Regions from separate parts of the Homo sapiens genome. Here regions 1, 2 and 4 are each linked to region 3. Evidence: fine-mapped expression QTL. A gene starts in region 3. Each other region holds a variant in brackets. All regions are shown on one strand. Distances are from middle to middle. Region 1 has its middle 89 kb from the start of NUAK1. Region 2 overlaps NUAK1 (NUAK family kinase 1). Region 3 holds the start of NUAK1 (NUAK family kinase 1). Region 4 overlaps NUAK1 (NUAK family kinase 1).

Region 1 (8,107 bases), 89 kb after region 3:
TTATGGTCCTGTGTTACTTGTTGTTTAATGTCTGAAAACACTTCTTGAATATATTTTGTTCTCTTTGTAGATTGTGTTTTCAGTGGGTCAGGGTGTATCCCATAGGAGTTTCTCCTTCATGGGTAGAAGCAAAAGTTGAGATTAAGTCTTTTGCCCAATTACAAATAGATGTTAGCAGAACTGGGTCTAAAATCCAAATATGATAGACTTCATAGCCTGTGCCCTTCATCATGATCAAGATCCCATTCTTCCCTTTTTTGGACCACATTCCAGAAAGAAGGCAGGTAAGAACCCAGTCAGTAAAAAGCAAACTGGCTATTCTTAGTGCTACAATTCCAGTAAGAAGGATTAGGCAGGGAGTTTGCTGTTATAGTTGGTGACTTCTCAGAGGTGCCCTGCCAAAGTTAGCTTTTATTTATTTTCTTCCTTGTGAGTGAATGGAGAAATTATGGGGCAGTTCTTCATTTATTTGTTTGCTGGTTCATTAACTCTATCATTTATTCCTCCATTTAAGATTATTAATGGAAAACCTACTGTGTACCAGGCACTAGGTTTTTGTTGTTGTTTTGGGAGGGAAATGTAGCTCCCAGTGGGTTTTCCTTTGCTTTCTTCCTCTTCATTCTTTTACTCTCTCCCAAACTTTCAATATGATCATGTGGGAAAGGCCCAGATGGTGACATTTTAGGGATGTCTCCCTGGACCCTAGTGGAGTTTCTGGGTGGTTAGGAGAGAAGTTAGGGTCTCCTTTCAAATTAAAATAAATGCCAACATCCCTGGGAGGTATCATACATTAAGCCATTGTCAGCTAAGGCTTGGCCAGCTATTAATGTTTCAGGAGAGACTTATTAAGTGTTAATTAAGAGTAATCATGGAGAACAACATAGGCCCCTTGGGAAATGGGACAGGATGAGAAAGCAAAGGAATTCTCACAGGAAATGTGGCAAGGATAAACTCTGAAATTTTGTCTCAAGCTGAGACATATATGTCCCTTGTCTTCTTTGGTCTGAGTGTCATAATAATAACAAAGTTGAGTGATGCTTTGTAGGTTACAGGTCCCCCCTGCCCACTCATTTGTTTTTCTTGAAGCCACCTCTCAATAGCCCTTGGAGGTAAACATTAGTACTGTTGATGAAATGGAAATTGGAAGAAGGAAATTCACTGGCTCAAGTTGCCCAGCTGATAAGTGCTATGGTCTGAATTTGAACCCAGGCCATCTAACTCCAGAGCTTCTGGTCCTAATTCTGCTCTGCCATCTAAGCTTGCAAAGCTGCTTGCTATGACCAAATCATCTCTGTCTTCATTACTGGTTCTATCAGTTCAGCATTTTCCTGTGCAACTCCTTCACAGAGCACCAAGTTTGGTGTCCAAGGTGATTTGGGCTTTTTGCATGCATCCAGATAACTGTTGCCAACCTCAGGAACTATTTCTTCCTCTTTGTGGCTGGTTGATTGGAATGGGAGCAAAAAAGCAAGTCTGGCCAGCTACTTCGTGGAAGACCAAGAAATGACAAAGGACACAAGGATGTTCTTCTTTAAAGCTCTGTACAACATGCAGCCAACTAAATGGGAGTGAAAGTGCTTTTGAGGAGAAATAGGAATTAAACAATAGTCTATCGTCAGGTTTACTGCTGCTGGTAAACAGAATTCAAACATATTTGCGGGGTAAGACTCTAAGGCTATTTTTAAGAGAGGCACTAGCAGACATTCAACGAAGTCTAGATGGGTTAATGAAATAAATGCATTTCCTGCTTCTCCATGATTTATATTTCTAAGGCTGCACTACATAGTAATTCAATAAAGCTGAAACGGCAGGAATGTCTGGCAGATTTTTTGGAATATGATACTTGGCTCATTATGGTGGTTCAATTTCAGTATCTGGATAAGGGTCAGATACAAAGGGACATCAAGAACAATCTTTTTTTCTCTCTCTCTCTTTCAGCCTCTACCACTTCAGCATAGCCTGCTCCATCTCAACCTTATTCATGTCAGTATAATAGGTTATTATTAAAGGCTTCCTGAAGCTTATGGTCTATTTGAGAACGATGAGGTATTCACCGCCTGCCAATCATGCTCTTCACAATTAGGAAGTTTATGCCTCAGTTAATGGTTTTTCTTTTCCTCATGATGTAACAAGAGAATTTATCCTGTGAGTAATACTGGAATTCATCCTTATGGCCATTTTCCTCTGTTAGTGCCCCAGGGACTATTTGAAACCACTTCTTTGTGTGTGTATGTGAATATATATGTGAAACAGAGAGACTCGGGGGAGAGGGAGAAAGAGATGGGAGTGAGAGGGCAGAGAGAGGAGAAAGTATTAATCTCACAGAACTCTTAGTTTCCATTCTGATAGCATTTATTGACTATATAGTCTGTGCCCCTAATGGTCCTATAGTGGAAATCTATATGGTCCTATATGGAAATCTGCTTTGTGTCAGTTCTGTATCACTTCTTTTGGGATTCTGTTTCTCCCAAGGTAATGTGATTCAGTGGGACCTCACCTGGCTGTAATTACCTTTCACACTACAGGGACAAGGTCTTCACTCACTCTGACTAGTTCAATTTTTTTTTTCTTCTAGACCTAATAATTGGTTCAGTGTTCATTCTAAAGCCCAAACACGACCAATCAATGCCATTTGGGTGATCAAGTATGGATGTTGACGGGGAGGGATTTGTGATGATTGTTGTCATCATCTTCTCTTTCTTTCTTTTTTTTTTTTCTGGAATCACCATGAGGATGATGTAAACCTAGAGATACTACTGGTAGCCATTTTTATCACCAAGTGATAACAGAGATGGCCTGAGAATGAAGCCAAGAAAGAGCACCACAGAACTAAGAGAGTAAGTGAAATGCGTATTGTAGCATCATTTGATCTTCTGAGCCAGGTTGCCCCCAAAGCAAACACTAACCTGAGACTTCACAGTGATGAGAGTTATTCTCCTTTTTTGGGCTGAATTAGTTTGATTTGGGTTCTTGTCACTTGCAACAGAAGAACAGCTTCTGGATACCTGAACATGTGGAAGTTCCTGGAGGGTGGTGCACCCAGGAACTTGCACATGTTCCAAGCAAGAGAAAGCATGGAAACTCTGCACCCCTTCCCCTCATTCCTCACCCTAGTATCTCTTCATCTGTATCCTTTGCAATATCCTTTATAATAAACCAGTCAACTTAAGTTATTTCCCTGAGTTCTGGCTGCCTTAACAAATTAATTAAACCCAAAACAGGGGTCGTGGGAACCCCAACTTGAAGCCACTTGGTCAGAACTTCTAGAAGTCCAGACTTGTGACTGGTGTCTTGGTGCAGGAGAGAAAGGGAGTCTTGGGGACTGACCCTATCTCCAGGTAGATAGTGTTGGAATTGAATTGGAGGATGCCCAACTGGTGTCTGCTGCTTGGTGTGTGGGGACGAATCTCCACATCTTTGTTACAAAAGTCTTCTGTGTTGATGATTGTTGTGGTGGTGTGAAAGCAGAAGAAAAGCAAAGTTTGAGAGAGTTTTTCCCTACACAGATAGTAATGACAGTGTGAGGAAGGGAGCAGTTGCTGGACTCTAGAAGGAGAGAGCTATCAAGAGGGCTTCCTTGACAGGAGCTGTCACCAGGGAAAGCAGCCAGCCAGAGGTGAACTTGCAGGGAGGGAGCCTGGGAAATGACTGCTGAACCTCTGCTGAAGTCAGAGGGTGGATATCCCTTCCTGTAGTTGACACAGGTCAGCTTCCAAGGCTCAGAGCAGGTGGAGAATGCACCTGAAGGGGCATGATAGGGTTTGGCTGTATCTCCACCCAAATCTCATCTTGAATTGTAGCTCCCATAGTTCTCACATGTCTGGGAGGAACTTGGTGGAAGGTAATTGAATAATGGGGACAGGTTTTCCCCATGATGTTCTGGTGATAGTGAATAAGTCTCACGAGAGCTGAGCTGATGGTTTTATAAAGGGGAGTTCCCCTGCATACGCTCTCTTCTTGCCTGCCACCATGTGAGATGAGACCTTACTCCTCCTTGCCTTCTGCCATGATTGTGAGACCTCTCCGGCCATATGGAACTGTGAGTCAATTAAACCTCCTTCCTTTATAAATTAAACAGTCATGGGTATGTCCTTATTAGCAGCATGAGAACAGACTAATACAGGGCAAATAAGAGATCCTCAGTGGAGGTGCATGCTGTCACTGTCCCTATATTATAGATGAGGAAATCAGGGCTCAGTGAGGCCATGGTGATAACGGGCCAAAGATTGTATCAATCAGTAGCAAAGACAGATGGCAACTCAGTTCCCCGACCATAAAGCTGTGCTCAGCGTAGTCATCCTGGCCCTGGGGGTTTTGGCTGGACCTGTTTGCCTCTGAAAACAGACCCACAGGCCTGTGTGCCAGGCTGGAGGATGGGGACAGACATCGATTGGGCTTCTCCTTCTTGCCAGGCACTGTGCTAGGCATTTAACCCACAACAGGCCTATTGAGATAGGTGTTGCTGATTCCATTCTATATGTGAACAATCAGCCTCAGAGACGCTAAGTAACTTGCTCAAGGGTACACAGCTGATGAAGATACTGACCTAGGTTCCAGAGGTCAGATTCCAGAATCCTTGGTCTTTCCATTATATCCTGGGGCAGAGACCTAAGGAGCAGAAAGGG[G/A]AAAGGAGAGGGAGAGAGGGAGAGGCTGCTGTGCGAGTCATTTCGAGATGGTGGGCAGGAACGGGGGAGAATTCAGGTGGCAGCATCTTTCTTGGGCCCAGGAAGCATAAGGCATGTAGGCAGGAATCCCAGGGTGCCATCTGGAGTTCCAGAACATCCCTAAGCAGCCTTTATATCTGCAGGCCTGTGCTGGGCCGCAGACTCACATGAAAGCATAAAAGCCTTCTGCAGCAGATGGGAATTTGAAATCACGTGTTGTGAGCAGCCAGAGCCGGGAGCTGTGACTCCTGTGCGGCGCTGTCAGTATGTCTGAGACACTGCTTCTCGTCCTTCCTCCCCTGCCTGTCCTTTCCACTCTGAGTTTCTCCTCCCTCTCTCTCCTTTGCTTTCACTATTAAAATTTTATTTTATATATTTTTTATTTTATTTTAGCTTGAGTTTTCTCAAGTTTCCTCTGCCTCCTCCCTGGACATGGAGACACATCTTCACTTTGTTCTTCAGGCCTCTCAAATTCAACGTGTTCAAGTAAAAATCCCTTTCTTCTCACTTAGCAAATCTGCCTCTCCTCGTTGTTGGTTTTGCATTTTGCCTTCTGGCACGGGATGCCTGGATGGAAGGCTGGGAAGAGCCAGCTTTGCTTCCTGCCTCCCCTCTCCTTTCCCTCCCTCCATCTCTAGTTGGTTTCCTCATCACTCTCGGTGCCCCTTCTGCTTTCTCTGCCTGGTTTCCGCTCTCTTCATCTTTCACTGAAGCTCTTTAGATATTTTTGGAGCCGAGTCCCTGACTGCTTGGTCTCTTCTCTGCTTCCTCCAGCACATTGCCACAGATATCACTTGAAAACATTGTCCAGGTGATACCAACAGTTTTAGCAAGAAGAGAAAATGGAGGCATTTTCCAGGTGACTTTGGGAAGGAGAGTGTAGTGGGCAGGCTCACAGCCCCCACAAGACTCCAGCCCTAATTCTGGGGGCATTGCATGTTAGTTACTTCCATGGCAAAAGGGACTTTGCAGAGGAAATCTAGGTTAGCAATGAGTTGACTTAAGATAGGGACATTATCCTGGATTAGCCAGGTAGGCTCAGTGTAATCACACAAGCCCTTAATTGCAGAAGGGGAATGCAGAAGGGAAAGTCAGAGAGATTTTAAGAATGGGAAGGATTCAAAGCTCTGTTGCTGGCTTGAAGATGGAGGGGGTCCCAGGTCAAGGAAATGGGAACCTCAGTCCTACAGCTGGAAGGAGCTGAATTCTTTCAGCAACCCGAGTGAGCTTGGAAGGGGCTTCAGCCTAGAGCCTCTAGAAGAGAATGCAGCTCTGCAGGCACCTTTTCAGCCTTGTTAGATCCTGAGCAGAGTTCAGCCATGCCATGCCAGACATCTGAGCTACAGAACCCTGATATAATGAATGGTTTTTGTTTGTAAGCCCCTAAATTTGTGGTACTTTGTTATGGCAGCCCCAATACAAACTAATACAAATAGAAAACTAACACACACAAAAAAGCCAGAAAGATAAATCAGAAACCAATAATAATGATTATGTTTATGGTTATGAGGGAACAGAAATAGGAAGGAGACATCACTGACACACAGGGAAATTAGCATACACTGAACATTTGCTGCGGACCAGACACCATGCCAAGTCCTTTGACTGCTATACCAGACCGGGATCTGAGTTGTAAGGAATAGAAAGGGTCTTTGGCTAATCTAAGCCAGAAAGAAAATTTATGAAAGAATATAAGGCATCTCCCAGAAACTCCAAGAAGGCTGGAAAACAAGGCTTGGGAAATAGTTGGGAATATAGAGGAAGCAAGGTGGCCAGAACTCAGCCAAAATTGGACCATAGAGCCAGGGTGTTGGGTGGACCACAGCTACCCTGGCTGTCCCCTGGCATTGTGGCGGCTTTGCTACCACAGCCAGCTCTGGCCTTTGGCCATTGGGCATTGCTAGCGGTACCACTGCTCTAGAAAATGGGATGGTTCTGGTGAATACAGTATTGCCTAAATGGATCCTGCCTTGTCCCTGCGTCTGTGGATCATTACTTTGAGATTTAAAACTCTGAGCAGGTGTGTCTGGCTGGGTCACAGGCCCAGAAGGTTCAACTGCTGTGCAGCCAAAAAATGACTCACAGAAAATGGCAAATCATCCTGTACCATCTCATTTAATCCACATAACAACCCAGCAGGGAACTACTATTATCCCCACTTAATAGATAAGGAAACCAAGGCTGCCAGGAAGGTGAAGCTCCTTTCCCAAGATCCTGAGCTTGTACAGGGCAGAGCTCAAACTTGAACTCAGGTCACCTACTTTATATGCACATCCTGTGGCCTCTTCTTGCAGTGACAGTCAAGTTTCAGATCCTTTCTGAGGAAAGAAGAGGCAGGTGGATTCTATCTGGTGCGTGGTTCAGAGAACTCTGGGGAGACAGGTTGAATGGGAGCAGTAGCTGGCCAAACAGCTCTGACCCGTTTGCTTTTGAGGCTTGGGCATGGCAGAACTTTAATTATTTTTCCCTATTTAGTGAAATATGCTTTCAGACATCTGTTCTGAGTTGGTCCCCTTTTGTTAGTATATATTGTGTAGCATGGCCTACTCTCTCTCAACTTGAAATTTAGACAAGGGATGTTGAGGCTCTGCTGATGAGACCACCACTGGGGAACCTCATCTTCTGTCTTGCCTCTCCTTGCCCCCTTTACTGTCCTTCTCCACCAAGCATTGCAAAGGAAATGAGATGGAATCCCACCCACCTGGGACTCTGCCTGGGTACAATGGACGCTAATCATAGAGACCAGTCTGTGGGTTAGGGGCTCCACCCAGTGCACTCAGTACTCTGAGCCCTATCTGGCATCCTTAACACAGCTCTCTTCTCCTGCCCCATTATCCTCCCAGCTCTGAGCCAGGCCAGTGACAGAAAGAACAAAAAGAAGGCCTCGTTTGTGATCTATTTCCTGATTTGAGATATCTGGAGCAGGTCCAGTCATAGGCCACTGATTAAAAGTGGTTTAGTTACTGTCACTGGTGTGAGGACCAGGCTAAATGGAAACAAGCCAAGCTCAGGCTCCACAGAGAGGAAACCCCAATTCAAAAGTTCCCTGGGATGACCTCCAATAAAAACCATCTGTGAAGGTGACTTATGAGCACTGACAAGAATTGGTTCATTTAGGCGTTATTTATGATAAATATGCAATATATACGTATACTCAATATAGATATACATTCAATATTCAAATATAGAAAATAAATATTCGATACATAAATATTCACTAGTTTTGCACACATGTAGGCCTATGCAGTAGAGTTTAGGAATTAAGCATGTGAACTCTTGATCACCTACTCTGTGCTAGGCATCTGACACACATGATCTCACTTAGTGTTCACATCACTCTCCGAGGAGGATATCGTTGTGAATATCACTGATATTTTACAGGTAGCAAAATGGAAAATAATAGCAGAGATAATGTAAGGGAAGTTGTTTTCATACATTATAAA
Region 2 (8,107 bases), 23 kb after region 3:
TTAAAGATTAAGGGGAAAGTGAGTTGTCATGTCTTGCTTCTGTCAGTGAGGCTGTGTCTAGCAGCTTTCTAGTTCCATTTTTCCAGCTTCCCTACAGATTTTCTGTGAGTAAGCTTTCCTCGTAATTGTGTTAGTAGGAAAACTATGGGTGACGATCTGCAGGGGCGCCGTGCATGGAATCCATGGCATTTCTTTGAGTGGCATTTCTAAGGGCTTATTTCCATTCCCCAAAGTCTTCAGGGCTGAATGGCGCTCCAAGCATGAAGTCGTGTTTTCTGGGTAACAGGATGAGCCACCTTGGAGTAAATAGGGCTGGTCGGGGTCACTCAGTTAGGATGTGGCTGAGCTGGGTCTCTTGACTCAAGGTCAAGTGTATTTTCTATTTTGCTACCTCTTACCTGTGTTTTACACTACAGGTTAAGAGATAGTGGTTTTGGCATAAAGAAGCTATTGCTATATTTGGATAATTAAAACCAGGAAAAACCTACCTTTATCTCAGTCATCTATGTTGCTCAAGTGACAGATTTTTAGATTTCTTTTTTGAGGGAGTAAGAAGTAGAATTTAGTCCCCTTATTAGCATGCCAGACCCAGTCTCTGTTGGAACATCAGTCTTAGATTAATACTGAGATGGACTCAGAAATACACTTGAAAGCAACTTGCATTATTATCCTTACATAGCTTACATTTTATGACCTGCTTAAAGATGCAAGGAGCATAAATCTTGGGAAGGATGGTCTTATTTACTTGTTCGTCTTTTCTGCAGATGGGATGCTCACATTAGAGCCGGGCTGGCTTCAGATGTCTGCTCCAGGATATTTTAGCTGAACTGTATGAGTCCATTAAACAAATGTAAGAGTTTTTGGGAAAGAAGAGCAGTGTCTCAAACCAAATGTTTTACATGGAGAACATCTGGGGAATATTGGTATTTGTGTGTACAGTACATCAGAAAGCAGCTTGGCGGGGTTCCGCAGGGATGTTTCTGGCCTGTGGTTGCTGGATTTGACAGTTTTGTTGTAAGGGAATGGTTCTTATAAAGTATTGCCATCAAAGCAACGCTTGATCCAGGAAGGAGTGTCCTTGCTTAGCCGCACATTCAAATTGTTCTGATTAGCTCCCCGACCAGACCTTCCACGACATTTGAGCAATCTGCTATCTGAGCTAGTTTCCCCCAAGGCTTTACATTCCAGAGAAAGGAAGCATCACAATGCCAGGGCTAAGAGTGTTTTCTTCCTTACCACATATTTCCATAGATTTGACAAATGTGGAAACAGGCGTGGTCCAGTGGAAGCAGCATTGGCCACTGGATCCAAGTACCTGGGTTGAAACTTGGGTGGGGCCTTTGTGACCTGTGGAAACTTGGGGAGTTCTTGTTGGTTTCTGTTTTCCTCTCCTGCAAAATTTCTAGCTTATCTCATGGGGTGGTGGTGGGGGCAATAAAATGAAGTGGGATGACATTGTATCTATAGGTGGGAGGCCATTCATACAGCATGGTATTGCCTCCATGGATTTGTGGTCTTAGCCACAAGTACAGAGGCAACTTGGACCAGAGTGGAATCTGGGTAGACTGCCCGACTTCAGCAACTTGTAGATATTGGGCCAGGTAGTGGGTGGATAGGTAAGAAAGGAATAATTCTTATACAAATTAAGACTTACGATAGTCATCATTTTTTATAAAATTAAGCTCAACAAATATTTATTGGAAGTCTACTACTATAGAGCCAGATCCTTTCCTAGATATTGAGGACACAGAGGGGAACACAGCAGTTCCTGGCTTGCAGTCTCTGCTTGCTATGTCTGGGGCATTGACAATGAATGACCTTCCCTTTTGTTAGGCTATATACTGACTGTCATTGTGTAGCATGGACAGTGGCAGGTAAATAGTTTGTAGGTGTGAACATTATTTGGCAGAGAATGAAGCTGGACTTCCTGCACCTTTGTGCAAAGTAGGTCAATGTTATCCTTACTGAATCCCTCCCCTGAAATGGGATGAAGCTCCACAATAATTTGATATTGTATTTTTGTGGTGTTTGACGAAGTTATTATAAAAATGACATCTATGTGGGTCCTGAAGACTGCATTTCAACTAGTACCGGTCAAGTGAAGTAGGCCCATTTTATGGAGGAGATGACTGAGTGTAAGGCACGCAGTGTGAGAGAGAAGCAGCAGCAACACTGCCTTGGCTTTTTTTGGAAATGGGAAAATGAATAGCTGAGCAAAGTGAGACTCGGTTTTCTGGTTTGAACTGATAGTTATTTAGGAGTGTGAGAAAGACACAGGGATAGAAATGGGGGAGCCATGCATGGAATGACTTCTCAAGAGGCCCCATCTGTGTGCATACACATCATGTGTCTGTGGGCTCCCAAAAGAACACTTTGCTGGGATGGTTCTTGAAACCTTAGAAAGAGCATCTCCAGGGCTAGCTCTAGAGTTGTGTGCCTGCCTGTTGGCATGGGAGAGGGTGAAGTATCTTGGTCTCTTTCAAAAGGCATCTTGGGGGTAGGAATAGTCCTCACAGTGAAGTCAGGGTGTTCCTCCCAAAAGGAGAGTGAATAGGGAGGGGCTGGGCAGGGAGGAGCCCCTGTGTCTACTGGCCTTTCCAGTAGGATGGTAGGCAACTTGAAGGGTAGGTCTAGTTCATGTTCTCTAGGACTGGATCAATGCCTTATCCAGAACAGATTTTCCACAATTGCTTGCTGTGGAATCGACTCATTCTCACATCGTTTTAGGGACATGCCTCCCAGCCCCTCCCATACAATTCTGCCTTTTGCCCACCTGGTCCCACAGAAAGCAGCAGGAACACTGATTGATAGATGTGCTTTTGAAGATGGAAGTGGTTTAAATATTAGCTAACAAAAGGACTTCTGGTGGGGACAAGGCAGTGCGGCCTCGATGGGGCCTTCATGTCCAGAGGTTCTGATTCAGCTCATATTTATGTAACACCTACTATGTGCCAGGCACTGTGCTGATTGCTTTGTCAGTGTGCTTCAGAGGTTAAGAGTATGGTCTTTCAGCGTATGGAGACCCAGACCTCCTATTTATTTATGTGCCTTAGGGCACGTTACTTAACTTCCCTCAGACTCAGTTTATATTCATTGAGAAGGCAGAAATAATAATGTTTTTGTAAGAATTTAATGAGTGAGAGGTTGAGAGGCTTAACAGAAAGGTACTGAGGGCCTGGCACATAGTGAGGGCTTGATAACTGGTAATTATTATGACTGCTAGCTTTTATTGTGAATCACCCCCAACCCCTCTGGAGTGGGCACTGTTATTGTCTCCATTTGGAAGATGAGGAAGTTCAGGCTCAGTGATTTTGGGACAAGAAGGGATTCCACGTTTGAAAGGTGAGCAAGTAAAAGAAGGCTCAGCGGCAGATGGCTGGGGTTTAGGTTGGCTGGAATGATCAGATGTCCCACTATGGTTTTCTGTTTGTCAAGGGTCCTTCTTAATACTTGGGCTCCATTTTAGCAACAGCTTTTTTGTATATACTGTACATTAGGCACATGCTTAGTACTGGAGATGCCGTGGTGCATAAAACAGAAATGATTTTCGTGCAAATGAAGCTTATGAGCAATGGTGAGCGAGGTTATAAAAGGGGACCCATATCTGCAAAGGGGTCATTGCAGGGGATGGGCCATGTCTGCAGCAGATGGATGCAGAGGAGTTGGTCAACCGAAAATGTTAATGGCGAGGACAGGATGTGGAGGATCCTGGCAGAGAAAATGGCAGGTGCCATGTCTAGGGGCATGAGCACACTCCCCAACCCAGGGCACAACTAGGGTCTCCAAGATGACCACAGACCCCTGCCCCAGCCTCCTTGAGGGTAGGAACTGAGAGTTGAGTACTGGGCGAGGCTCATCCCCATGATGGGACGGCAGGAAATGCTCGTCTGGGGCCGAGCACACTCCTCAGCTCAGCCTGCGGTTTCTTGGGGCTGTGCATTTGCAATGAGCAAGAGCATCCCAGCAGGCAGGCTTGTGGAGCACTAATGAGGGAGATGACAAGCCTCCCGATGGATCTTGCAACGGGCTGGGGAGGAGGGACCAGCCTTTTAACTCTAGGAATAATGGACAATGAGAGCTTCTCTTGGAAGGAAAAAGATGCTTGTGAGGAGATAATGAGAGAGGCCTCGGGGGCTCCTGAGTGCTCTCCAGAGGCTTTGGGGGACGGACTGCAGCCTGCACGGTTGCTCCCGCCCTATCTGATAGGTCTTGTACATTGCTATAAATCAGTTTTCTAAACAGAAGAGATTCTGTCTGGATAAAAATAACTTCTGCAGAATCTTCTCTTTCACTTATTTATAAAACCATTCATGATTAGAATATAAAATAAGATAGAAAGTCATGCCTCTTTTTAGCTTGTTGTATTTTACCATATTAAGAAATGAAGAAAAGTTTTTTTGGTTCTGCTCACCTGGATCAGCTAAACTCAACTGACTAATTTCCTTTCCCTTTGGAAAACTAATTTTGCTTCTTAGGTTTTTGTGTTCCTAGCTCATTGTCCCCAAGGTTAGTGATTCAGTAGTGGCCTGAAGTTATCATTTAATAGCAGTGTTTGCAATGAATTAAGAAATAATAGGATGAAAACTTCCCAAGTATGCGTA[T/C]TCATGGGTGATATTAAATCAGTCTTCAGAAATTGGAGGAAAGTTTGGATAGAACTGAACTGAAAACAGCGTCTCTGGCATAGCTATGTGAGGACAGACATTAGATGGAGGTGAAATACACCAAGCTGCAGCACAAGTCATGATTTGTCAGCACCCTGAAGAGTATCTGCCACTCCCATCTCGGTTTATTAATGATGCAACAGTTCTGGGGACTTGGCTGTGACTGGAGCCAGCCTCCCATGTAAATGTTGAATTTTTTTTGTGGCAGTTTCAGCCCTGCTGCTCACTGTGGCTTAGTATTTGATTAGGAAGGACCCCTTGCTCAGAGTGTTTATCCCTCCTGGAGTGGGAATCAGGACTCTCTTGTTGCAATTCCAGTGCTGCTGATAACTTCGTGAACTTGGGGCCTGTATGTACTTTAACCTCCCTGGGACTCAGTTTCCCCATCTGTAACATGAGGAGATTGGCATAGAGCATTCTAAGTCCTTACAGCTCTAACATCTACTCATGATAACAGTCCTCATTTTGGCTTCTGCCGTAGGTACTATTTGCCTTCTCTGCCTTCCATCATATACACAATCTGCCATGTTGCCACAGCAACCTTGTGAGGTTGGTACCATCATCATCCTCATTTGCAGGTGAGGAAACTGAGCCGGTGGCGTGATTATCCGAGTCCCTCTCCTTATAGGAGTCGCCTTGGCTGGGTTGCTGTGACTGATGACAAGCCCAAGGTGCAGATGCTGGATTTCTTAGCAGTACTGGCTCGGGTTCTTCTGGGTTTGGAGGTTGATAAATAAAAGTTGCACAACCTTAAGCTTATCCAAGCCTTGTTATAAACAGTGTCAGAGTGATCAGATGCTACCAGTTGAGGCTGTCCAAGTTGTAAGCAACCTCAGCCCTCTGGCCCAGCCCTTTCTCTCCCTTCCCAGGGCAATTGTAACCTGGAAGAAAAACAGTTGCACTTTAGAATTCTGATTTGGTGTTGCATTTGGCTTCAGAGACGTGAACGTCCAAAAATAAACAGCTGCTTGGCAACTCCAGTCTCAGCTAAATGGCCTGGCATTTTCAGTCTTTCTTTGAATCTGATATTGTCTGTGTTAGCGTCTCTTGTGTTACCAGAGGCTTTTTCGTGCTCCGGGTTATGTGTAGACTGTGAAGTAACCCATCCACACCCACATTCCCTGGCATCACTTCATCCACAGGCCCTCCTTGGGCTGGGACTAGGGAGATACCCATTGGAAGCAAACTTTCCATTTACCAGGGGTAAATTAATTCAAGTCACTGAGCCCCCTCAAGGAAGCCTGTGTTTAATTCCTCTGTGTATAAATGGAAGGTTCATTAATTTTCATCAGTCATCTAGTATGTAATATAACTGCTTCCTGTTTAAGCTACAGAACAATAGGTGTCGTCAGGGCCACATTTACCCTGCTTTAAGGTGACTGCTCTCAAACCTCAGAGTGCAGCAGAATCACCTGGGAGGCTGTAAAGAATGCTGATACCAGGTCTGCCCCCTACCCTGAACACTGCCACCTTCATTCACTAGCTCTGGGGTGGGCCCAGGAATCTGCATTTTAGCAATCAGTTTCCCCTTTCCCCCTAACCAGGGGATCGGAGGCAGGTGATCTGCTCACCACCCTTGGACAGATAGTGCTCTAGAGTCTCTGACTGTCCTTTTCAGGCGGGTTTGTGGCTCACTTTTGGCATGCCCACTCAGCACGAACTTTCCGGTGGCCTTTTTGCTATTTCTTTGGTTCTTGCCTGGTCAGCCACGGTTTGTATCTTATGTTTACAAACCTCAACAGGGAGTGTGAATCTGCCCACGGTTTCTTAGTCATTAATTCCACTTCCCTTGTGGCATCACCACTTGCAATGACATTCTTAGCTCAGTCTTTGAAGGGGAGAGGGGTGGGGGTGAGTCTTAGAGACCAAGGAATGACTGTCCCTGTAGATAAAAATGTCCCAGCCCTGAGGTCCTCCTGAGCTGGCCCAGGCCCAGTCAAGCACGAATCTGCTTTGTTTTTTATGTTCTGAAAATAGAATGCATTTTTTATGGCAGGAGAGAAATCAATATCATCACAGGAATCATCATCTCTTTTATGTAGAATTTTGAGAAATAGAGGTTTGAGAACCAAGTTACAGAGGATTAAATTTTCAGAACCTCTTACAACATTAAAGGGCTGATGAGGGCCAGTGAGGGGATGCCACTCTTTGAAGGAAAAGCTCCTAGCTACACATACCATGCTCCCTGGCTTCAGTGCCTCGCCTCAGAGCCTGTTGATACAACTCTTGGCTTCCAATCCATTTCTTTCTGAAATACATTCATGTAGGACATGAACCAACAGGCTAAAGAGGAAGGGAAGAAGAGGCCCATGGGCCCCCAGGCAGAGCTGGCTTGGTTCCCATGGGGCCCGTTGCATCACAGCAACTTGCTGGGGTGTTGTTCTGAGTTGGCCAGGCCCCTCCATAAAGAGCCCGGGGTCATTTAATTAATTAGGGGCTTTGTTTGCAAGATGGGTGGCATCACCGTGGTGACTGTCCTCGGCCAGAGGCTTTTTGAGTGAAAGCCACATGGTGATCCTGGGAGCTTTGGACCGGTGTGGCCTCGGTGGGGCTGTGCCTTGCCCCACACTCTGTGCATCTCCCAGGCAAGAGCAGGAGCACTTTACAGCCTCCAGCCGGGCTTGGCTGCCTGCTCCTGCTGCAGGCGGCCTCTGGGCTCCTAGGTAAGGAGAGATCCCCTGAGCTGCCTCTGACTTCGTGCCCTGCAGCTCCCGTGGAACGTGCCTGGGTATGAGATCACACCTTGTGAATGGCAGGGAAGTTGCCAGCTCGTGTTGCTGGGATTAGGATGCAAACTTGTTCTCACTAAGTGATGCTAATGCCATATTTATGACTGTGTTTCTTCCCTGCTGCTCAGCCCTCCAGTCCCTCCTTTTGGGACCTCACATATGACCCTGTAAAACTTCATCTGCTTGGAGGGGGGTCCATCTCACTAGGCTTTAGGGACCCTTTCGGATCCTACAGGAGATTCTGTTCCCTGTGATGTTTTCTATTCATCCCAACTTTATTCATAGCCTTAAAAATCAGCAGCCTCTGGGCTCGAATTCTAGCTCCACTTTTTTTTTTTTTTTTTTTACAGGCTATGTAACTTTGGGAAATATTTATCTTTCCTGGCCTCAATGTTCTCATCTGTAAAATAGGATTGTAGGTAGGCTTAAATGAGATAAGGTCCACTGGCACATGATTAACACCTAAGAAATATTAATTATTGCTATTATTAAGAATATTGCCACTGATTTAAAAATGTTGAGGGTCAAAGACGAAGCACTAAGACCTGGCTACTCCAAGTGTGGTCCCTGGGGCTGGCATCACCTGGGACCTTGCTGGAAATGCAGAATCCCAGGCTGGATACCCAGACCTATGGATTCAGAATCTGCACTTTTTCAAGATGCATGGGTGACTCCTATTTGAGAGGCACTTCAAGAATACTCCTTGAAGTCCAGCTT
Region 3 (8,107 bases):
CAAGTGCCAATGTTACTACATCTGTCCTGTATCCAAGAACAAAACCAGAAATCAGAGTCTAACCAAGCAGTATGATTAAACTGCTTAAAATTGCCCCAGGCCAGGCACGGTGGCTCATTCCTGTAATCCCAGCACTTTGGGAGGCCTAGGCAGGTGGGTCACCTGTGGTCAGGAGTTTGAGACCAGCCTGACCGACATGGTGAAACCTCGTCTCTATTGAAAATACAAAAAAATTAGCTGGGCGTGGTGGCACATGCCTGTAATTCCAGGTACTTGGGAGGCTGAGGCAGGGGAATTGCTTGAACTAGGGAGGCGGAGGTTGCAGTGAGCCAAGATCGTGCCATTGCACTCCAGCCTGGGTGACAAGAGTGAAATTCCATCGCAAAAAAAAAAAGGCTCCAAATTCTAGTAGGAGCTATGGAAGATGAAAAGTATCGTATTAATATCCACGATTTATTGAGTGGATATAGTCTAGCCCTTAATCCTCATACCAACCCTGTGGGATGTGTTATTGGCGTAATTGCTAATACCACATACATTGTTACTGTCAGGCCTCTGTGCCCAAGCCAAGCCATCGCATCCCCTGTGACTTGCACGTATACGCCCAGATGGCCTGAAGTAACTGAAGAATCAGAAAAGAAGTGAAAATGCCCTGCCCTGCCTTAACTGATGACATTCCACCACAAAAGAAGTGAAAATGGCCGGCCCTTGCCTTAAGTGATGACATTACCTTGTGAAAGTCCTTTTCCTGGCTCTTCCTGGCTCATCCTGGCTCAAAAAGCTCCCCCACTGAGCACCTCACGACCCCCACCCCTGCCCGCCAGAGAACAACCCCCCTTTCTTTGACTGTAATTTTCCTTTACCTACCCAAATCTTATAAAACGGCCCCACCCCTATCTCCCTTTGCTGACTCTCTTTTTGGACTCAGCCCGCCTGCACCCAGGTGATTAAAAGCTTTATTGCTCACACAAAGCCTGTTTGGTGGTCTCTTCACACAGACGCACATGAAAGTTACCATCGCCACTTTGCAGATTAGAGAACTGAGGCATAGAGGGGGAAAACAATTATCCAAGATGATCATAAGAGGTGGAACAGGGATTTGAACCTAGTCACTCTGCCTCTAGATCTGAAGCTCTTAATCAAGGAGCCTGGGCTCTTGTTGGAGAAAATGCTTTATCGATGTGAAAACATTCACACACAATGCCTGATAGCATTGTGCTGAAGTGTGGTTCCAATTATAAACGTGGTAGGAATTCAGTCTGGAGAGGAACTCCCAGTGCCTGGGCATGACTGTGTGCTAGGCATTGTACTGGGTGTTTTTCATCCTTCCCATTTAAGGAGACGGAGCATGGCATATATGAAAGGAGAAGGGGGAGCTTTGGAACTGGACAGGTAGGGTTTAAATCCTGGTCCTGCCATTTACAAACTGTGTAACCTCTGGGAAATTACTTAACCTTTCTGATACGGTTTCTTCAATTGAAAATAGGGATTGTAAACAGCTACTTTACAGAGGAGGGTTTACTGTCATAAAACAGTACCAGCCTATGGTAGATGATGCTGTTGATTCAATAGATACTGATGAAGTCCCACATATCTGGGAGTAACACTATCAGCCAGAATAAGCCAGGTTATGCTGCTTTAACAAATCCCACTGACTTAACATAAATAAAGTTTAATATTTGCTGACACTACTTTTCCAATGCAGATTGGCTGGGATTTTCTGCCATCTTTACACAGAGACTCAGGCTGGCTTGGGGAGGCTCCAACTTTGTACCACCATGATTGTCAAGATAGGAAAAAGAAGACATGGGGATTTGCTCACTGGCTCCTAAAGGTTCCAAGTGAAAGCAACACAATCACTTCTGCTCTCATTCCATTGGCCTAAGCAAGTCCGATGGTCTCATCTAACTTCAAGAGGATGGGGTAGTGGATTTCTACCACATCGCAGGGGAGGGGAAGAAGTAGAAAATATTTTAAAATACTACTGTAGACACAATGTGTTTATCTCTACAATAGATCTGCTAAATCCATATCTTAAGAGAAAACCGAAGCTCTGAGAGGTTATGTCATTTGACCAAGGCCACACAGCCAATCCTCTGGGAAGCCAGGACTCAACCTGCATGCCACTCATCCTGACTGTGGGATCTATAGGCACAACGTCCACAAACTGTATAGAAGCAGAACAGTTTCAGGATGGGGGTGGGTGGCAGGGAGGCCCTGCAAATGCGGTGGACAGAATAGGAATTGAATAGGCATGATGCGCCTTTGTGTCTGTGTTCTGTCATTGCTCCTGGGGAAGGGAAGAAGGGGCAGGGAAGTTTGTGTGAAATATCAGTAGAAGGAAAGTTTGGACAGGTAAGAATATCACGCGTCAGAGTACAGCAGAGACACGTGTGGAGGATGAGGGCAGTGTTTCAGGCCATTACTCTGGCAGCAGTGAGGAGGCTCCCGGGGAGGGTTGGGGAGAGCGGGCTGTTGCTGGAGTCCGGGGTAAGGTGACCAGGGGTAGACAGGAATGAAGGCGGCGGGAATGTAGAGGAAGGGCTGCACCTGAGAGCTGCAGAGGAGGCCCCAGTGAGGTCCACTGGTGGAAAAGAACCGCCATGCGATCTGCAGAACACCAGACCTTCTTCAGCCTTCACTCTTCCCACCCTAGTCTGGTACATTGCACCACTTGTTAAAAAAAAAAATTTCCCTAAGACCTCTTTTTCTCTAGCCTTCTTCCTTATTTTTCATGGTCTCTTCTTAGAACGGCGGCAGCCACGCCGCGGTGGGAGGCCCTTCCTGCCTGACCCTTACCGTGCGGGGTACCGTTCCTGTCACCATCGCCAGGATCTGGCCCTTTCAGTGAAAGGAAATCTCCCAAGGCCTAAGGAGGCAAGAGGCCTGCAAATCGCCTCCTGCTCAGCAAACGGGTTGCTCAGCAGGCCCGGGGTCCTGGTCCACCCCAGGTCCCTGGTTTGCCCACCTCCGATGGCGGCCTTCGCTGGCAGGGTGGGCGCCTCTGGGGAGCCAGCTCCGTCCCGGCGCCTTTAGAGCCCCATCTCTTCCACGTCCCTGGCCTTCCTCCCCTTCCAGGCGGCTGTCCCCGCCGGGGTCCAGATGGTGTCGGAGGGCCGGCGGTTCGACGGCGGGCCCGGGGTTCAGCCTCCCGGCCTCCCTCCGTCCCTGACTCTCCTTTCTTCGGAGAGGGCGCGGGGGCCGGGGCCAAAGCGCCGCTCTTGGGGTTCTCCTGGACTCGGAGTTGCCCCAGGCGGGCGCAGCTCTGCCCCGCGGGGTGCCAGCCTCGGGCGGGCAAGGTCCGTGAGTCACCGCCTGTAACCGAACACCAGGCCTCCCTGCCCCCTCCCCCAGCTCCGGCCGCCAGGCTGCGGCGACACCTACAAGAAAATGAAGGGGCGCCCAGGCCCGCGGCGGCCCCGGCCGTATCGCGAGCAGGTCCCGGCGGCCCCCGGCTCGCGGCGCTCTTTCTTCCCCGGCCCCGGGGCTCGGCCAGCCGCAACCGCCGCCCCGGCGCCAGCAGGAATCCAGGCCGAGCGACCGGCCCCGGAGCCCGAGGCGGCGGAGGGCCCGCGGTAGCTGCGACTGGCGAGCCCGAGAGCGCCCGGGGAGGGGGCGCCCGGCTTGGAATTTCCCGGTCCCTTCCGGCCCAGCGAGGACAAAGCACTCCTGGCCGCCGCCGCCGCCGCCGCCGTGGCCTACGCCGCGCCGCACAAAGGGCGAGTCGCGACACGCTCCCATCCCCCTCCCAGCTCACGGCGGCCCCGGCCCCGGGTGGCTGCAGGGAGGTGGGGGAAGCCCTGGCTGCACCGCCCCTCGCTCCCCCTCCCCTGGGGCCGCGCGAGCGCCGCCCCCGCCCCGTCTGCGCGTCCTCCCGGGGAGGGGTTGGGGGGCGCGGCGCCCCACATAACACTCCCCCTCCTGCGCTGCGAGCCACCCTCTCCCCTCCCTCCTGCAAACACCACCGCCTCCCCTGCCACCGCCGCCACCTCGCCCGACGCTCCACAGCTCGCCGCGGCCGGGGGGCGGTGCGCGGACCGTGCGCGCCGCGGGCGCCAGATGTGCAGTCCCCGCCGCCGCCAGTGACCGAGCCGCAGTCCGAGCGGTATCGGGCCGCCTCCCTGATGCTGCGGGGGCGACCTTGAGCGTACAGCGGCTTCCCTCGGTGGGGACCCCGACATCCCAGCGCTGTGCCCGGTCTTGCCCTCTGTAGCCCGGCTCGCCCCGCGCTTGGACATGGAAGGGGCCGCCGCGCCTGTGGCGGGGGACCGCCCCGACTTGGGGCTGGGGGCGCCGGGCTCTCCCCGAGAGGCGGTGGCGGGGGCGACTGCAGCCCTGGAGCCCAGGAAGCCGCACGGGGTGAAGCGGCATCACCACAAGCACAACTTGAAGCACCGCTACGAGCTGCAGGAGACCCTGGGCAAAGGCACCTACGGCAAAGTCAAGCGGGCCACCGAGAGGTTTTCTGGCCGAGTGGTGAGTGGGGCAATCCTGGAGGGTGCGGGGGGCGCTGGGTGGACGCGGCCGGGGACTGAGGGCGTGCGAGGCGGGGGTCTGTGCGCCCTGGGGCTCTCTTGACAGAGAGGGGGCTCATTGGGAAGCCCCGAGACAGACTCCTCACTCTTTCTCCAGCACCCCGTGACTCAGGCGTGTCTCTGTCCTGAAACACTTGTTACATCCTGTCTGCACATATTTTATTTTATTTTTTGGTTTGTTTTTAAAAATTTAATCCTAGCAGCAAAGGAATGTTTTAGATTTGCAAACACTTTGCAGCGTTGGGACGGCCGGGGTCTCTCTCCCTCGCAGGCACTCATTTAGACCATGCCCCGAAACGTCTTATTTCCACAACTCTCCAAAGAACCACATTCCCAGCTAGGAGCTAGCCCCTCAAGTCCGGTGTTTTGTAGGTGTCCCTACCCCCTTCCACCCATCTGCCCGCAGCTCCTTGCTCTGCATCCTCCCACTCAGACTCTGCATCGCCCTGATACTGCTGTGACTGCAAGGGAGGGCGACTCTTGCCTGTTTTTGAGACAAGGTTAGGGAGCAAAAATAAAGACTACTGCAAGCCTGAGGATTCTAACAGTTTGCATCATGGCTTTGGGAGGACCGAAATGTCCAGGGCATGGGTAGCTACAGAGATAGCTGTGCTTAGTTGCAGCAGGCTCAGTTGTGTTTCAGCTCCTGGTTGCAGGGCTACCAAACCGCTGAAGGGGTCTGGCCCCGCTGCTCTTGTGACAGCTGACACCCTGCCAGGGTCCTGGCACCATTTGCACAGCTCCAAGGAGTGCTTTGAGTGCCTTGGGGTCTGTCTGCCTTGTCCCAGCCTTGGTTTGTTGTTATTTTCACTTCTGCAGAACAGGCCCTTGAAATCCACACTGCTTGTGGCTAGAGAGTTGGGTTCAAAGTGACTGACTGTTGCAGAAAGATTTTGTGTGGTGTGTGGCAGAAAATTAACATGGTTCTTTGATTTGAAGCAGATCAGATGTATTCTAATCGATTTAGGGCCAAAGTCAGAAACTGATTATGGGACTCCTTGTGTGCACTTTTGGGGGTGTTTTGGAGGCTCAGGTTTGCTTATAAACAACAAATGACTGCAGGGAAAAAGGAAAATGAGCTGTCAAATAAAATAGCAGCTTAGTATTGACATGTTTCTTTTGCATTTCGGCAGGAACAGTTCTGTGAAAAAAACATGGGGGTGCCAGTCAGCAAAGTTCAGTCCCCAAATTCTCAAATATCTGGATACCCGGATAACGCCCTCCCAACCCATTTCTCAGATTTGATGTTTGGGTCTATATAACTTCGTCCCATAACGTTATTTTAAAAAAAAATCTGTTATCAATTAATTGGAAATTTGAGATGGCGTACATTTCTTTTTAAAGCTGGCTCTGTAATAAATTCTACAGCAAGCAAGTAGTTGAGAATTCACTCTGGGCAGGTGCCATTTTCGTAGGATGAAATTGTTAAAGGGGAGGGTTGTAAGGGTGGCCTCTGATGAAGGCAATTTCAGGTTTGTGGAAGAAGAGGCTGGGAAACGTGCACTTCATTCATGCTTTTCTTCTGAGGTGATATTCCCCAGGCTGGATGTTGAATAAGCAAAAACTAAGCTTAGATCCCTGCTCATGTTGTCTTAATAGCTGCTGAAGAATCGCACTGGGAAGGTGGGAAGCAGAATAATGAAAAACAGACGCAGTTCGAGCTGCAGGTTGAGAATGTGAGGCTATGAGGGGTTGTTGAAGTGGTAAGGGTGTGTCTAGGGTCTGTGAAGGGACCCCAAAGTCTAAATGCTGGGGCACTACCTCAGACCTTTCTAACGAACGAACCCTTGTCTTATGGCAGACGCCTTTCTGAGCGTCAGTGGGACTTCCTGTCAGGCGTTCTTGAGCTGTCTGATCCACAGACTAGGTTAGAGTGAAAGGGATTTGCATCAGTAGGCAGGAGTCCGCCTTTCTCTTTTGGGGGATGTCTTTCTCTGTATTTGCAGAAACTGAACATTCCGTCAGGATTTAGTCAAGCGGCCACGAGGGGGCGCCCTGAGAACGAGAGAGGCTTCTTTACCAGCCGCAAATCTGAAGTCCCGCTGTGTTATTGTTCAGCCCTAGTTCATTTTCCCATTGTGCTATTAATTTCAGCTAAATCTCTTGTTTTACCCCAAAATTATGTAAAGATTTTAAATCTGGCAGCAGACCCACGCCCAGAAACTGACAGTCTCTAAAATGCTTCGTTTATTCATGGGGCTGCTTTCTCCTTGATAGCTGAGCTTACAGAATGTTAGCCAGATCCCTGGGTAAAAACCTTGCATAAAACAGATGGGAAAACTGAGGTTTGGGGAAGGAAAGTCCTCCTTGGCCCCCCGTCCTCCCCCTGCTGAGCACACTGCTCACAGATGGTGTTAAGAACTTTAGTGAGAAACAGGAATTGTCAAGTGGAAAATTTCCTGTGACTGGCTGAACAGAAAATAACACCAAACAAACAAAAAATTGGTCAACGAGTTGTTCTTGCCCATACAGTGCCTGGTGACTCAGAACCTGTTAAGAGCAGTAAGACATTTTCATCTAAAATATGAACTTGGAGTTTTCTTCTGGTACCAGCGATGTGCTAAACATTCACAACATGCTTTGAAGGTGCAGTTGAGGAGAACTGAAAGGGCACTATCTTAATTTAGCCTTTTGATCTTTGGGTAGAATTTTGAAGTGATGTTTTATTTTCATTTGCACCAGTGCCTTTTACAGCATCTCTCAAGAGGAGCAGTGGTTCTAACGTGTTTTACTAATGTGAGTGGCCCAAGACAGGTGCCGAGTATGGGGTTGTATGAAATGCTGTGAAATCAACATCCCTGTTGAAAGCAGGGGTTCTTCTCAGAGAGGAGAGAAGTTTCTAAAAAATGAGGATGTGATGGTTTTTAATTGCATACCTGGAAGGACCTTCTGAATAAAACAAAACACAACACAGCATCATTTTCTATGTGCCGCGAAAGGCAGTTCTGAAGAGAAGTGCAGAATGAGATGCTTGGAGTCAGCTGGTGCGACCCTGTGTGTCGTCCAGGCACTCTCCTGCAGTCTTGCAGCCTCTGCTAAAGCATGTCCGTGAGACCAGGACTCAGAGTGGCTTGTTCCAGAGATGAACAAGCTCAAAAATGAGGCACTCTTGCAGAAAGGCAAAGAGCCCTGGCTTACATTCAAATCCTTGATCTATCCCCTACTAGCTTTGTGTCTTTTGGCAAGCTATGTGACTTTTTGAAACCTCAGCTTCTTCATCGGTAAAATGAGCTACTAAGAGTACCAACTTCATAGACTTGTGAGAACTGAATACAGTGATCTATATAAAACCTCAAAAGGGGACATTAATCAATTTAGTTCCTCCTTTTAGCAGATTTTTTTTCTCATCTCATTTTAGGATTTCATTAGATTTTAAGACCATCAGAGAGACAATGCATTGTATCATGCAGAGAGAGATAGAAGAAATAATCAACTTTTCAGAGTAATAAAATAAATACCAAATTAATTAGGGAGGTGTGTCCATAGGAAGATGAGATAATTAGCCAGATTCAGATAGGATCTGAACACATTTCTCAAGTCTTGAATTTGGGCCTTGTTTATTGCACAACTTT
Region 4 (8,107 bases), 65 kb after region 3:
ATTTTCACAGCACCAAGTGATTGGCGGTATTGCAATTCCATTTTCCAACAAAGGAATCTGAGACTCAGAGAGGTTAAATAAAGTAGTCATAGCTAACATTTACTGAAGGCCTACTGTGTGCTAGGTAGGCATGGTGTAAGCACTTCCATGAATCAGTTTATTTGGTTTGGTACCAGCACTTCCAGGTAGGTGACATTATTATCATCAACCCCACTTTACAGATGAAGAAATGCAGGCTTAGAATGGCTAATGTGCAAGTGCGTATTATACACTGGGGCTCTTGTGAAAATGCAGTTTTAGTGGATCTGGGGCAGGGCCTGAGTGTCTCAGTTTCTGAAATGTTCCGAGGTGATGCTAATGCTGCTGGTCCGTGGGCCAGATTGGAGTGGGGTGGGATTATCTAAAGCGCCTTGGGTTAGATGCTGGTACGAGGCAAGGCTGAGATTTGAACTCAAGTGCTCAAACCCTGAATCCTTTCCTTTTCCCATCCTATGATGCAGCTTCTCACTCTGAACGTGACTGTATTATAAATGAGTGGTAAGATCTCCTGGCTCTTTAATGGGCAGTGGCTTTAATGCTTTTGGTTCCCTGTTTGCCTGGTCTAACAAACGATTGTTAAGTCGGCCAAACCATCAGCCTTACCATAATGGCTGTAATTTATAGCGTCAGCTGGTCCCAGGACTATTCCAGGAGCTTTACATGCGTATTCTCTACTCTTCTTACCTATGTGAGGTGGGTTCTAGTCTGAGTGCCATTTTGCAGATGAGGAACTTGAGTGACTTGGCAGGTCCCACCCATCACCTAGTAACGACAAAGCCATGATTAGCCCCAGGTTCTCCTGGACCCAAAATGTCTGATCTGTGGAGTGCACCACACTTCCTCTTAAACACTGCAGATGACTGTTAGACCATCACTAATTATTATCATTGCCATCAGCATCCTTTCCTATCAGTTAATGTCAGCAAGGTGACACTTCAGTTTTCACCAGATGAGCTCATTATAAACAGTGTTCTGGAGTTAATCCTTTTATGGTGGTAAAATATATGTAACATCAAACTTACCAGTTTTAGGTACACAGTTCAGTGGCATTAAGTATACTCATATTGTTGTGTAGGCATTACCATCATCCATCTCTAGAATGTTTTCACCTTCCCCAGCTGAAACGCTGTCCCCACTGAATAGTAACTCCCCTTTCCCCCTCCTCCCAGCCACTGGCAACCTCCATTCTATTTTCCATCTCTGAATTCGACTACTCTAGGGACCTCATGTACATGGAATCATATATGTCCTTTTGTGTCTGGCTTATTTCACTTAGCATAACATCTTCAGGGTTCATCTGTGTTGTAGTGAGGTTAATCCTTTTGAAATGTGAATGAATAATTACTTCCTCATTTATCTTTCTAACCCCAATTTTCATGCAGTGGGGAACACCTCTGGAAAGGCTTGATAACAATAAAAACTCCAAATATTAAGGACCCGAGCCTTGAGTTCCGGGGCTCCTTTCGAGAATTGAGGCTGAACTGAATAGCACAGGGCAGGGGCAGAAGGTGGTTCTGAATCAGTATGGGGCAGGGGAGCAGTCAAAACAACAAGCAAAAATGCCAGCTAGGTAGGTACCTTTCTCCAAAGCTTGCCTGCTAGTGTGTCAGCAAAATTCTTCAGCCCAGTCGCCTCCTTGCTGGAAAGTCATCCTCTCCATTTGCAGCTGATGTTCTGTTGGAGAAACTGTACGGCTTGGGAAGACCCATGTGCTCCTTCATGTACTTGCTGCTGTTCTTTGCAACCTTTAGCAAAACTTCTTATGCCCTGGAACCTTCAGCTGCTTCACTTTTAGAGCGAGGGGCAGGATTAACATCTGTTAGGGCTCTTTCAGGTCAAAGTAATTCTGAGATTTTGTTTTATGATGTTTAAAATCAGTATTTCTCAAATTTCAGTTTGTCATCCTTTTCATGGATTTTTGCCTTTCCGCAGTATCCTCACTGCTATTTTACTTAATATTTTTGTTGAGTTCAGGTCACTTTTTAAAGTTCTGTCTATTTGAAAAAGAAGCCCTAAATAATTACCTTAAGTGGAAAACCAGTATCACTTACCATGAATAGAAGATAAGCTCAAAACTAAGTATAATGGAAACCAAATAGCATTCTGAAGTTCCAGCTTGATGTTGGTTGCTGCTGCAGGCTAGGCCGGAGGCCTGGTCTCTTTGATAAATGCTAAAGAGATACTGAAGACACACCAGTGCCCAACTGAGACCTTCTTCTTGACTTAATCCAAAGAACTGAAGGTGAATCCAGAAAGGAATGAATTTTTCATTTTATTATTCAAAGTTATTTAATTCCATTATTATTTGGCATCTGAAATTTCTCTATTTCTTCACTGTCAAGAGTCCCTGGCATTGGGATAAACTCTGCTTCTAGTATAACGAAGGTAATTAACTCCCTGGATTTAAAGTTGGGAAGCAAATATATATTGAGCTCCAACTCTGGGCCAATTACTGTTGTAAGGACTTTACATACTTTATGTCATTTAATCTCCACCATGACACAGTAGGGATAGACACTCTTCCTAACGCTATTTTACAGACGAGAAAACTGAAGCTTCAGAGAGGTTTCATAACCAGTGGCCATTTCCCCTCTTATCAATAGTTGATATAAGTTCCGTATGGCATTAAATCTTAGAGCCGAAGCCTAAGTTTGAATGGCTCAAGATCTGAGAACGCTCTCTCTCTCTCTCTGTGTGTGTGTGTGTGTGTGTGTGTGTGTGTGTTGATTAATACTGCTTTCCCATCGAAGTGCCAAGAACACAGGCTAATCTAGATTTCTATTAATCTTGTGTCAGTGGCAATGACAGTTTTACTGGGAGAGGCTGATAAACATCAGTCTGTGAGGATAGGAGTGGGCCATAACATAAACACACTTCTCCAGAACGGCTACAGAGCAAATGAGGCTGCCCAGACTTGGAATGAAAACTCCTGGTGTGAGTGTGTGCATGTGCAGCGGGTGCCTCTCACACGCACGTGTATTTGGAAGCTCATATGGTGCCCCAGGCACTGCCAGGCGGGAAGAGAATGCATTTTCCTGTGCGTAGCCATTCCATGCCTCTTCTGATTGACAGGGCACACTTCATAAAGCTTCCAACCAACTTCCTGCAAGCAAGTCAGGGGCCTTGATAAGAAAGTGGAATTCAGGGCAATGAAGTGCAATCTGAGCCCGGAGAATGCATTTTCTGAGGCTGGTTGTACACCAGCTGCTTTCAATGACATTCCATTCATTCAGGGATGACTTTTACAAAATAGGCTGCTTCTAGGGGCTGTGACCACCACAGAGCCTCGGTGGTATTCAGGCTGGGCTCTCTCTGGGCATGTGAATCATGCAGCTCATTTCCAAGCCTCAAATGGAAATCAGCTTGGAGAATGATGGAAACCTACAGGGGCTCAGCTTGCAAGGCTGGCTTAGAGTGGAGTGAAATATACAGGTGACCCAGGGACAGGGTGGCACTGTGGTTTGAAGCTTTAGAGACACGGGGGTTTATATTGCTGCATATTAGTTACTCATCTCCTTAAATGAGTAACCTCAAACTCCTTAAACCTCAATTTCCTCATCTGTTAAATGAGTTTTTCAAAAAATGTGTGGTAAAGTGGACATAACATAAAACTGACTATTTTAACCTTTTTTAGGCATGAAAGGCATTCACATTGCTGTGTAAACCAGGTTTTTGTTAAGATTAGATTAAATAAAGTGTTTGGAGCAGTACCTGATAATTGGAAGTTGTTCAAAAAGTGGCAACTAAGTTTATTATTATTATTATTATTTTGCATTATATATTAATTATCTTGTGCTTTTCAAAATATAATGCCTGTACCAGTGACAAGTGTTTCTTGGGTGTGGGCAGGTGCTAAGCAGTGGATGATACAAAGATAAGGGGAGGATGTGGAACCTGCCAACTGCCTCAGGAAACTCAGAGTCTGGTAGGGAAAGCAAATATATATATGTATATGTATGTATATATGTGTATATGTGTATATTTGTACATATGTGTACATATACATATACATATATATGTAAAAGTGCTGTCATAAATGATAACACATAAAACACTTCAAGAAACCAAAGGAGAAGAGAATGACTCCAAGGTGTGTGGAGTACAATGAAAACAAGGCTAGATGAAACATTTGCATCAAACTTGAAGGTTATGAACCACTGTTACACTCACGGTGTCATCTTATTTTTTTTTTTGAGATTGAATCTCGCTTTGTCGCCCAGGCTGGAGTGCAGTGGTGTGATTTTGGCTCACTGCAATCTCCGCCTCTCAGGTTTAAGTGATTCTCATGCCTCAGCCTCCCGAGTAGCTGAGATTACAGGCATGCACCACCACGCCCGGCTAATTTTTGTATTTTTAGTAGAGACGGGGTTTTTCCATGTTGGCCAGGCTGGTCTCGAATTCTTGACCTCAAGTGATCCGCCTGGCCAAGGTCTCATCTCGATTGATTTCTTTTTCTTATTATTCTCATGATGATCCTGTGAGCTAGAACAGGGAAGGGATCATGGATTCCCATTTTCTGGTGGGTAAACTGAGGCTCAAGGTCATTAAGTGACAGATAGGAGCAGAGTTGGGACTGAAATATGATGACTCAAAACCCAATGCTGTGAGTCAATTAGTCCATTTCATCTTGAGTCACAAGACAGGCAAAATACAGTTCTGATCAGGGTGTGAGTGGATACAGAGGTGGTATCACCAGTTGTGTAGGTCAG[G/A]GTTTTTCCGCAGTGTGATATGCACACCACCGCAGATGCAGCATAATTGGGTAGACCACAGAGGGAGAATTCTTAAATTAATAGTTACACACTTTAATGTTCATCAGAAACATCAAGCCAGTGATTTTGTGAATGTTATTTCTCAAAGCAAGTCTAAATTAAAGTTTAAATAGAGCATCCATTTAAAGAGTAATTTCTAAGTAAGTTGCAGAGCTTGTAGTCTGCAGATTTGGTAGAACTTGTGATGGATGCCAAGGACTGCAGCTAGGAAACACTGACCTGCTTGGGCTGAGTGGTCCTTTATGAAGACTCAGGGCTGGAGAGAAAATGGCGATCCAGCCAGCAGACCCACCCAGGTGCCCTTCATCCACTCTGTGTGCTGTGTGGTGTGAACTGATCCAACACAGACATAATCTGGAATGCTAACAAGTCTCCCTGGGTCTTGCTTCTCTTTGTAGATTGCTGACTTTGGGCTTTCCAACCTGTACCAGAAGGATAAGTTCTTACAAACGTTTTGTGGGAGTCCACTCTATGCATCTCCTGAGATTGTCAATGGGAGACCTTACCGAGGGCCAGAGGTGAGCAGCTTTCCCAATGTGTATGGGGCAGGGGAGGGGAGGGAGAAGAGGGAGGAAGGGCAAAAACTGGATTCGAGAAATGCTTAAAAAAACAGAGCCTAAAAAAGCCAGCAAGGAAAACGTTTCCTTATACGATTATAAAAGCAGTTAATGTATACTCCTGGGAGGAAATTTGGGAAACCCAGAAAAGCCTAAAGGAGAAAATAAAGGTACCTGCCATCCCCCTAGAAAAGATAATCACTTAAAACTCTAGTGACTTTTAAACTTTTCCCAATGTAGATCTCTGCATTTCAAAAATAATTGAGATCAAGTTAATAAAAGGCAAGATATACATATGTATGTGACACACGTATGTATATCTTGCCCTTTACTATGAAAACTATCTTGTGGCAATTTCCAAATTCATTATTAAAAACATGATTTTAATGACATTTTATCAATGAATATACCAAAATTTATTTAGTAATGTCTAGATGTGAACATTTAGTTTTTTCCCTATTATATCAAAACAGACAAAACAAACAAACAAAAAATTGCCTCACTCTGGGGTAAATATCTTTTTTGTATATATTTTTGGCAGCATGCATATCTGACTAAGGAAATACATTTTAATGACATCTTCTAATTCATGAGAAATACATTTCCCTACATGCTAGCGCTTTCAAGGGCCACTGTAAGATATGGGTATATGGAAATTTTATTTTGAAAATGAGTGAGTTGTGAGTGATGATTCTCTTTTTGAAAGATGGTTCTCTTTTCAGAGTTCATCCACTCAGTATCCTTTAAATAGCAGCTGCTCAGTGTGTTGAAATGTTTTCTTTCAAATATTTATGTGTTTGAGAGTGTTTGGGGGCAGGGCTGAAGGGTAAAGAGAAGGATGCCAAGACCATCTATTAACTGCAATGAAGAGAAAGTCTTTCTAAAATAAGAATGTGAGGGAGGAGCATAGAACTCAATTTACAAACTTGTAGAAACTCGACACGAAATTTCTCATAGATAATGAATATTTTGGTCTTCGATGACCTGTTTTTGAGGTTCCAGGCTAGCAGTCTGTGATCTGGTCAGCAAACTCCTTTATTTGGCCACCTTAGTTTTTATTAAAAAAATTGAACAAACATGTAATAATTGGGAGATTTCATGTAAAAGTTTGGTTTCTGACTTCTCTTGTAAAACCAAAGAATCGAGCAGTGCTGGGCCCATGTTACTACATGGCAGCAATTAGCTAAGGAGAGGCTGTCTGCCTAAGACGGGTGAATGTACTGTACAGTTTGTCTCCATCCCCAACACTCTATGTCATAACCCCAATTCTTTCTTGCTTTGTGTATATCTGTTAAGATTTCAGTTTGTAATTCCTGATTCATTTGAAGAAAGTGCAGGAAGGAATTGATTCCTGGATTAGGAATGAAGAGCCCCGCATCCCAGTTTTACCTCCGTCACTGGGGCAGGGCCTCTGGAGAAACCATTTAGGTTCTTCGTGCCTCAGTATTCTCATCTTTTAAATGGGGCTGAAAATAGTCCTGGCTCTAACTGCTTCACAAAATTGTAGTGAGGATTAAAGAAGATAATCTGTTTAAGAAAGTTCTTTACTAGTTGGGACCACTGGCCTCTGTTCAGAATGGAAAGGTCAGGCTCTGTAGCAGGTCCCAGCTGCATTGCTGTCAGGTGTCAGGCTGCACTAGGAACCTATCTTCCAGGTGCTAAATTCAGTTCCTGGGGCTGCTGGGGGTGGCTGCTCACAGGCTATGATGCTAATGGTTTGGAAGGCATCTTGGGATCTGTTTCCCAGCTCTCCTATATGTGCTGTCTCTCTGCTCCAGGTGGACAGCTGGGCCCTGGGTGTGTTGCTTTACACTCTTGTTTATGGAACAATGCCCTTCGATGGTTTCGATCACAAAAACCTCATTCGGCAAATCAGCAGCGGAGAGTACCGGGAGCCAACACAGCCCTCAGGTGCGTGCCCTGTGGAGGGAGGGTCAGAGGTGGAGGGGAGAGAGATCTGCTTACCCAACTCTTATTTTCTGCTTTTGTTTTAGTATGTCTGTCTGGAGTCACCTGGTTTTCCTCTTTCTTCTTCCCAGAAGTGTCATCCTTGGCAAAACTGGCTTATTAGGCTGCTTTCCCCAAACCTTCCCAAAGGAAATTTTCAGAGCACACCTTCTAGGAGTCCTGTTTGCTTGCTTTGTGGATCTGGACAAGTCACTTAATCTCTTTGGATTCAGATTCTCCACCATAAATAAAAACGTTGGAAAAGATATTAGATGAGGTCTCTCCCAGTCTGAGTAGACATAGAAACCACTCACCTGAGAATGTAAATACTGTGAGGGTGGCCACTGCTCTGTCTCTCACTACTGTGCCACTGGCATGGGGCATGGCTCATGGGTTCTGTCTCATTATTGATTTCTGTGTAACAACTCTACCCCATCTGCCCCTACAAAACAAACTCAGTGGCTTACACAACCATGAAATCATCTCTTTCACCCCTGTGGGTTGGGAAGTGCTCTTATGGCCTTCCTCTCCTACAGTTGTAAGCAGATGGCAGTTGGGGCTGCTGCTGGGGCTGAATGGTGGACCTTCCTCAGTGCTCTCTGAGGTGCCACCCCACAGTGGCAGCTTGGGGTTCTAAGAAGGAGGAATAAAAAGTTGCCGAGCTTTCTTTCTTTTTTTAAAATTTTTCTTGAGAGAGTGTCTCGCTCTGTTGCCCAGGCTGGAGTGCCAGTGCCATGTCCATGCTTGTACCCAGATTGTGTCACATCTGCTGTGTTCTATTGGTCAAGACAACCA

Evidence for each region. PIP is the estimated chance that this variant, and not a neighbour inherited with it, causes the effect.
Region 1: its variant is the best candidate, but not a certain one, in a credible set for the expression of NUAK1 in cerebellar hemisphere (GTEx, PIP 0.61).
Region 2: its variant is the best candidate, but not a certain one, in a credible set for the expression of NUAK1 in blood mononuclear cells (TOPMed, PIP 0.83).
Region 4: its variant is the best candidate, but not a certain one, in a credible set for the expression of NUAK1 in whole blood (TOPMed, PIP 0.89).

Annotation. Positions count from the first base shown.
Region 1 is chr12:106,046,007-106,054,113 of GRCh38, reverse strand. No RefSeq gene overlaps it. Among named protein-coding and RNA genes, the nearest start is that of NUAK1, 89 kb to the left of the region's middle. The variant G/A (reference allele first, on the strand shown) is at 4,626.
Region 2 is chr12:106,111,532-106,119,638 of GRCh38, reverse strand. The region is part of intron 1 of NUAK1 (NUAK family kinase 1); the gene reads left to right. Among named protein-coding and RNA genes, the nearest start is that of NUAK1, 23 kb to the left of the region's middle. RefSeq lists enhancers at 3,294-3,870, 3,871-4,447. The variant T/C (reference allele first, on the strand shown) is at 4,602.
Region 3 is chr12:106,134,783-106,142,889 of GRCh38, reverse strand. It overlaps NUAK1 (NUAK family kinase 1), which reads left to right and starts at 3,936. Exons shown (of 7, transcript NM_014840.3): 1 at 3,936-4,476. The coding sequence starts at 4,237. RefSeq lists enhancers at 1,995-2,614, 5,006-5,507, 7,925-8,107.
Region 4 is chr12:106,069,943-106,078,049 of GRCh38, reverse strand. It overlaps NUAK1 (NUAK family kinase 1), which reads left to right. Exons shown (of 7, transcript NM_014840.3): 5 at 5,207-5,326; 6 at 7,144-7,276. Among named protein-coding and RNA genes, the nearest start is that of NUAK1, 65 kb to the left of the region's middle. The variant G/A (reference allele first, on the strand shown) is at 4,749.